Regions from separate parts of the Homo sapiens genome. Here regions 2 and 3 are each linked to region 1. Evidence: fine-mapped expression QTL. A gene starts in region 1. Each other region holds a variant in brackets. All regions are shown on one strand. Distances are from middle to middle.

The links. PIP is the estimated chance that this variant, and not a neighbour inherited with it, causes the effect. A credible set is the group of variants that fine-mapping cannot tell apart.
Region 2: its variant is the best candidate, but not a certain one, in a credible set for the expression of PDGFC in thyroid (GTEx, PIP 0.75).
Region 3: its variant is the best candidate, but not a certain one, in a credible set for the expression of PDGFC in non-classical monocytes (Schmiedel 2018, PIP 0.70).

What each region holds. Positions count from the first base shown.
Region 1 is chr4:156,970,614-156,973,379 of GRCh38, reverse strand. It overlaps PDGFC (platelet derived growth factor C), which reads left to right and starts at 1,581. Exons shown (of 6, transcript NM_016205.3): 1 at 1,581-2,594. The coding sequence starts at 2,477. RefSeq lists an enhancer at 1,294-1,794.
Region 2 is chr4:156,709,340-156,712,105 of GRCh38, reverse strand. No RefSeq gene overlaps it. Among named protein-coding and RNA genes, the nearest start is that of LINC02272, 68 kb to the right of the region's middle. The variant G/C (reference allele first, on the strand shown) is at 1,092.
Region 3 is chr4:156,754,073-156,756,838 of GRCh38, reverse strand. No RefSeq gene overlaps it. Among named protein-coding and RNA genes, the nearest start is that of LINC02272, 110 kb to the right of the region's middle. The variant C/T (reference allele first, on the strand shown) is at 1,304.

The sequences.
Region 1 (2,766 bases):
ATAAGAATGAATGAATGAGACAGGCGGGTGAAATTTTCAAGAATGAGACAGATGGGTGAAGTTTTCAAAGGTTTCTAAAAGGGAAAAACAAGAAGACTAGGATATTCCAAGCAGAAAGGTCTGGTTGGTTGGCCCCAGTTGGTGTTCGCATATAAGAAGAGGGCTTGGCATTTTCCTCACCACTGAAGAAGGATCAGCCCCTGGTTTGGTCCAGTAAGAATATGTTCTTGCCCAAATGCCACTCCTTAGTTTCAGGGACATTGCTATTTTGGTTTTCTGTTCCAGCCCAAGTGTTCTTGATGGTCGAATTGTTTGCATTGACTTTTTTTCCACAAGAAGTTGGGTGATATTGCTGATTTGCCTGCCATGGCACTTCCTTGTTTTCATTTTGATTATTACTCAAAAATAGCTTCATTTTAAAATTCAACTTTTCTGACTCTCTGCTTGTGCCTTTAACACATTGACAATGATTTTCTGCTTCTCCACAAAGAAAGCACGTTGGATCCTGTCACAGACATATTTAGCAGACATGGAACCACCATAAGCCCTGCTTGGCATGTGTGTTTCATTTCAGACTACCTCATGAGAACTTTAGGTCTTAAAGCATCGGCCTCTCTCTCCAAGTCAGCCTGAACACAAGCCACAAGAGATTTCAGTTCTTTCTCGACCTTTTTGGTGTAAATGTAAACAATTCTATCACCAGGGGTTCAGGGCAGCCTAGTTTTGTTAGAGGCTGTATTGTAGGAAAGTCCAAGGTTGCAGGATCATTCTGAGTCCCTTAGACACCATTCTCAGAAGAGCTTGCTATTAGCTTAATGCTGCCCAACTACTACGTATGCTTCACGAGGGCAGGGACTTTTGTCTGTTTTCACTGCTACGGCTCCAACCTCTAAACAGTGCCCGACATAGTAGGCATTCAGTAAATATAGTACTTGTTAAATGGATGTTATTTTGGCTGCCTTTACTTTTGCTTTATTTGTCCTGCTTTACGGAGCTGGAAATTGGAGGAAAGCCTTTGAATTCATTTCCCTTCTTCCTTCTGTTCTGAAACTCTGGCCAAGGGTCCTAGCAAAGACCTTAGGGAGTGGGGAGCCCTCCTGGAAACTAATGACAAGTCAGGCGACAGGGGGCGGGAGAAGGAGAGCTGCAGGAAGTTCTTTCCCACTTACTTCTGCAGCACCCTTCACCACCCATCGTGCTCTGTATTTGGGGTTAGAGGTGTTCCGTGGAAGGGAAAGCAGGGGCCGCCTTGGCCGCGTTCCTCTCCTGGGCCACCGGGGTCTTGCCCACAGCGAGTCCCGCAGCACCCCCTGTCTGCGCAGCACCTGTTGACAGCCAGTGGGCGGCCAAGCCCGCTCGCGCGGACGCGTCCCAGGGCTGCCCCTCCCAGAGGCGCTGACCCCCGCCCGCCCCATCGGCCGCCTGCGGGAGAGCCGCTGAGCCGCCCCCGCTCGCCAGGCGCGCGCTCCGCCCGGGCTCGGCCCACGGCCCCCACCTCCTGTCTGCCGCCCGGCGGGGGGAAGGTAGAGAAGGGGAGGGGACAAGCCGGATCCTCCCGGCCGCCCCGGCCTTCCCTCTTCACCCCGTGCGGAGACGCCGCGCGTAGCCCCGAGGTTAGCGCGGAGCCCGAGGCGTGGGGGGAGGGGACGGGGAACAACCGGAGCCCCGCGGTGACCCCGAGCGGCCGAATTGCCCCAGGCTTTGAGGAGCGGGGGACGAGCCCGAACAAGGTGAACTTTGGTCGCGGAAAACTCAAGCCAGGTGCCGGAATCCGTGCTGCGGCGCTCCGAACCCGGGGCCAACTGCGCTCCGGGCTGAGGAGCGGGAGCCCCGCGGCCTCTCTCCGCCTGCGCCCGGGCCGCCGTCGGCCCGGAGCCCCCCGGCCCCGCTCCGGCGCCCCGGCCCGTGGGACCCGCCGCGGCGCCCTCGCCTTGTTTCTTCCCCCTCCCCCTTCGGGGGTGGGGGGTGGGGCGGGGGAGAGGGGCGCCCGGAGAGCCGCATCTATTGGCAGCTTTGTTATTGATCAGAAACTGCTCGCCGCCGACTTGGCTTCCAGTCTGGCTGCGGGCAACCCTTGAGTTTTCGCCTCTGTCCTGTCCCCCGAACTGACAGGTGCTCCCAGCAACTTGCTGGGGACTTCTCGCCGCTCCCCCGCGTCCCCACCCCCTCATTCCTCCCTCGCCTTCACCCCCACCCCCACCACTTCGCCACAGCTCAGGATTTGTTTAAACCTTGGGAAACTGGTTCAGGTCCAGGTTTTGCTTTGATCCTTTTCAAAAACTGGAGACACAGAAGAGGGCTCTAGGAAAAAGTTTTGGATGGGATTATGTGGAAACTACCCTGCGATTCTCTGCTGCCAGAGCAGGCTCGGCGCTTCCACCCCAGTGCAGCCTTCCCCTGGCGGTGGTGAAAGAGACTCGGGAGTCGCTGCTTCCAAAGTGCCCGCCGTGAGTGAGCTCTCACCCCAGTCAGCCAAATGAGCCTCTTCGGGCTTCTCCTGCTGACATCTGCCCTGGCCGGCCAGAGACAGGGGACTCAGGCGGAATCCAACCTGAGTAGTAAATTCCAGTTTTCCAGCAACAAGGAACAGAACGGTGAGTCTTTCCCCCATTCTCCCCCTGCTTGTTTCTCGCTGTGTGTGTTAACGTTGGCATTGTGCGTTGGTATGTGATATATACCAGACTGTGAAGGTATCTTTGGTCTCTCATTACATGCAAATGTGCGCTGCGTTCATTGGCATGGACTGTTAAAGGTTAAGTGTAGTTT
Region 2 (2,766 bases), 260 kb after region 1:
GTACTCCATTTATCAAAGGGATAAAGAATACACAGGTGAGAGGGTGGCCTACTTACCACTACTTAGTCAATGCTATATGTTCTAAATTTTGTTATGGAATAGTTCCCCCAAGGGACCAGATTTCTGTTCGGATTACTACTGCTCTGAAATATATTATCAATGGCTTAAACAATCATTTTATTCTGCTTATAGAGAGAAGTACACTAGTTTCTACTCCATGATGTCTAAGGCCTCATATGGGAAGACCCAAAGGCTGGAAATATCTCAAAACCTGGGTACTGGAGATATATGAAAGCTTATTCACTTATATGTCTGGAGACAGAGCTAGGATGATATGAAGATCAGGATTTCTGGGCCTCTATGCATGAACTTTATATGTAGCTTAAATTCTTACAGTATGTCAGCTTCAGAGTAGTCAGTTTTCTTACATGGTAGTTCAGGCCTGCTAGAATAAGTGCTTCAGTGGTCAAGCTTGAAGCTGTATCACCTTTTTGACCTAGATTCAGAAGTCATACTTTGGAAATCATCACTTTTGCTGCATTCTTTTGGCTATTACTTAGTCATAGTCTGCTTAGAATCATAGCCCTCATCTCTCGATGGGCAGAGAGACAAGGTCAGATTTTAGAAAAGCATGTGGAACGACAGATACCATTGTCTTCATTTTTTAACAAATAATCCTACCACAGAGTGACATCAGCATCATTGGGAAGCTCAGTGATGTCTGTCCTTATCTAGGACAGGACTGATAGTAAGATGTGCTGTCACCGAACTGGCCTTTATTCCGGCAATGCTGATAATAGGATTTCAAAATAGGAAAGGCCAGGTGTTTACAACTATAGTGATCAGTAATGAGATTGGAGTGGCAGCCAAGAGGGCCCAACCTTTGGTGAGGTATAGAGATAGTATTCTGGACACATGAGTGAAGGGCAGTCAACAAGTTGACCACTTCATTTATATAATGAAAAGAAATCAAGGATGAATAAGCAGAAGACTGCAGGTAACCACCCCAGTAAAAAGTCATGATTCCTTCCCCAGTTTCTGTACCTGAGCCAACATTCAGAGCTGGAATCCATTAACTGAAGGAGAAGCTG[G/C]ATTCCTATGAGCAGGGACCTTGCAACACTGCAGCAAGAGTATTCAGTAGTAATTCCCCAGTCTTCCCTAAAGTGATTTATAAACACTAACTTATGTAACTGTGCATTGCAAAGAGAGAAATACCCGAGCTTTACAGGATTACTGGAAAAAGGGTCTGACTTAATATTTGCATTCAGGGACACAAAGTCCCAACATGACCCTCCTGTTAGAATGAGGGCATGGGGCGGCCAGGGAACAAGTGGAATCCTGGCTCAGGTCCTGCTCACAGTGGAGCCACTGTGTTCACAGACAAACCATGTGGTCATTTTTACAATGTCTAATGGAATGCGCATATTTGGTAGTTGACAGAATTCTCAATTGTTATACCTGGGGTAATTGAAGTGGGAAAGCCTCTGAAACTGTCTCTTTCTCTCTAAGACAGTAAACCAATACTGCATCTTGGGAGGGAAAGGCAGAAGTAAATGCCACAGAATGCAGGGTGGTCTGTATTCTATTCTCATTTAATTAACCAGTCTGGCCTTTATAGAAACGTGATAGGTCATGATGGATGACAATGGAATTCCATTTACTTAATTAGATAGTACCCTCAATTGCAGCTATGCTGAATGTGGTATCTTTGCTAATGTAGATTAACAAAGATTCTGCCATATGACACGCTGTCACTGATCTGATGAATGCCTTCTTTTCCATCCCTATCAGAAAAAAGGATCACAAGTTGTTTGCATTTATTTGAGGCAAACAATATTATACATTTACTGTGTGGCCCAAGGTCTATGTTGTATTTCCTGGTATCTGCCCTAATACATTCAAAAGGGACCTAGACTGGACACTCTGTGGTATATCACATTGGTCCTGTCTGTTGAGGACATCATTTTAATATAGTAGATGGGTGCAAAATGTGTGTACTGTGTTAAGACACACGGATTTTTTAGGGTGGGAGGTAAACCCTATTCAGGGACCTGTCATGTCAGTGAAAAGTTTAGGGGGCATAGTGGCCTAGGGAAAGCCAGGACATCTCCTCCTAAGTAAAAGACAAATTCTAGCATCTATTACCTCCCACAAGAAAGGTAATTGCTTTTCTTTCAGAAAAGAAAAGCAATTCTTGGTAGATATTTTCAGGTTCTGGAGAAAGCATAGCCTGTACTTGGAAGTACTCGTCTAACCCATATACTAGGAGATATGAAAGGCTGCCAGCTTAGAGTGGGGCCTATAGCAGGAAAGAACTCAGCAACAGGCCCGGGCAGCAGCAAACTATATTTTATTCAGAAAGCAGAAACTGAAATGGTCCTTTTTAGAGCTCCAACCATGGAACGTCAAGTGACCAGTTTCATGTGGCCAGAGATGCCCACCTTGAGCAAAATTATTCTGACCCACCCAGTCATAAGTTCAGGCAGGCCAAGCAGTAATCCAGTTTAAGAAGGAAGTGAAGCCGGGTGCAGTGGCTCATGCCTGTAATCCCAGCACTTTGGGAGGCCGAGGCAGGCAGATCACCTGAGGTCAGGAGTTCCAGACCAGCCTGACCAACATGGAGAAACCCCATCTCTACTAAAAATGCAGAATTAGCTGGGTACGGTGGCGCATGCCTGTAATCCCAACTACTCGGGAGGCTGAGGCAGGAGAATCGCTTGAAACCAGGAGGCAGAGGTTGCAGTGAGCCAAGATAGCACCATTGCA
Region 3 (2,766 bases), 220 kb after region 1:
TGTGGTAAAGTTAATAAAGTTAGACACGGAGATCAATGGAATAGAACTGAGAATCCAGAAATAGATCCTTAAATGTATAGTCAACTGATTTTTGACAAGAATTACAAGAAAATTCAAAGGATAAAGAATAGTGTTTTTGACAAATGGTGTGAAGACAACAGTATATGCACATGGAAAGGAATAAGATTGGAACCTTTCCTCATACCATATGTAAAAATTAACCCAAAATGAATCAACGACCTAAATGTAAGAGATAAAACCTTACATTTAGAAGAAAATTTGTGTGTCTTTGTATTAGGCCATGGTTCTCAGGACACCAAAAGCACAAACTACAAAAAAAAAAAATGGATGAGCAAGATATCATCAGAATTAAAAGTATCTGTGCTTCAAAGACACCACAACAAAATGAAAGTGTTGTTGAGGATGTGGAGAAATTGGAACTGGTATATTGTTGGTGAGATTATAAAATGTTCCAGCCACTTTGGGAAATGTGCAGTTGTTACAAATGTTAAACATAGACTAAATATGACTCAGCAATTTCATTCCTAGGCATATACCCAAGAGAACTGAAAATTCTGCACAGAAATATTCTTCACATTTTTCACAATAGCCAAAAAATGGAAATTGCCAAAACATCAGTCAACTGATAAATGGATGAACAAAGTATGGTATATCTAAGCAATGGAATATTATTAGGTAATTAAAAGGAATGAAGTACTTATACACCCTACAGTATGGATCAACCCAGAAAACATTATGCTAGGTGAAAGAAGCCATTCATATTCTATGATTCCATTTATATGAAATAGTCAGCATCAACAGATCAATAGACACAGAAACTAGGTTAGTGCTGCCAAGGGCTACAGAAAGGGGATAAATGGGGAAAGACTGCTAATGGGCTCAGGTTTTCCCAGAGTAATGAAAATATTCTGAAATTAGATAGTGGTAATAGTTGTAAAAGTGTGAATATACTAAAAACCAAAGATTTATACACTTCAAAAGGGTGAATTTTTCAATATGTGAATTGTATCGCAATAAGGCTGTTTTCTTTTAAAAAATTATAGTTGTATATAATGTAGTATTTAAGAAATAAAGTTTTTCTCCCCCTCCCGCCAAACGAGGAATAAAGTAAAAGAAAAATCCCCCAAATTCTGTCACCTCAGTGTACGTCATTTCAAGCTACTCTCTATGAATAGAAGAATATAGGTAAAAAAAAATGGATGATGTGATAGAATCATTGGTCTCAGTTCTGCCTCATACAGTAATATTTGACATCTGTACTTTTGCCACGGCCTAATGGCGA[C/T]GGGAGTATATTTTCCCACTTGTTGAATTTAGTCTTTGTCATATGTCTTGCTTGAACAAAAGGTGAAAAAAGTGCCTGTAATGTGTATTAAGGCTTCAAATGTGCTTGCACAGATGGGTTTGATTTCTTTGACTTCTGCTATCACCAGGGGAAAACATGCAGCAGATTTGAATCCAATCCATGCTGTGTTGGCAAATCCAACTGAGTCCAGACAATCCACAGATCCTTCAGTGAGAAATTAACGCTTCTTGTTGGAAGCTACTTATATTAATTCTCACTCTGCTATAAAGAAATACCTGAGACTGGGTAATTTATAAAGAAAAGAAGTTTAATTGACTCACAGTTCTGCATGGCTGGGGAGGCCTCAGGAAACTTACAAGCATGGCAGAAGGGGAAGTAAACACTTTCTTGTCACGTGGTGGCAGGAGAGAAAAGTGCAGAGTGAAGGGGGGAAGAAACACTTATAAAGCCATCAGATCTCAAGAGAACTCACTATCATGAAAACAGCATGGGGGAACTGCCCCCAAGATCTAATCACCTCCCAGGAGGTCCCTCACCCAACACATGGGGATTATGGTTTGGATTACAATTCAAGATGAAATTTTTGGGTGGTGACACAGCCAAACCATGTCATTAATAAATGTTGAGAGTGTTGTTATGCAGCATTATTTGGCAATGATTGACTAATAGATATTATTTCATTTAACATGGGGTCACATGGGGTGACATTGTATTTTTTAGTGAAACTTGAAACTTATAAACAAAAAATTGAAATGAAGCAGGAAAAACATGCATTTTGGAAAATGTTTTATCAAAGTGAGATATAACTTTCTAAACAATCACTAAATCTGCAAAAATTATTGAAAACATTAAAAGCATGGAATTATTTCCTAAGCACCTGCTTTTATTTCAGTCAGTATGTGTTCATTTGCTATTAAGAAAGAAGAGGAAATAAGCCCTTTGAATAACTTAATTGTACATTTTAAAATAACTAAAAGAGAGTAACTGGATTGTTTGTAACACAAAGGATAAATGCTTTAGGGGATGAATAGCCCATTATCTGTGATGTGATTATTACACATTGTTTGCCTATAAAAAACACCTCATGTATCACATAAATATATAAACCTACTATGTATCCACAAAAATTAATTATAAAATTTTTAAAAAGCTGCAAAAATTAAGCCCTCTGACATCTTAGCCTACCTCTTCAACAACTATCTTCATTTTTGTTTATTATATTGTTTATTATTTAATAAACATTGAATAACAATATACATTTAATATAAAAAAGTAAAAACATTTAGTAAACATTTAAGTTATGTTTATGTCTTAATAAACACTTGTATAATGTGAAGCATTTGGGGAAAATTTCCTCTGTTTTTTAGGTTATTTCTCTTTCCAAACTTGTTTATTACCTCTGTCTGTGTGTGTCTCTCTTTCTCTATTTCTGTCTCTCTCTT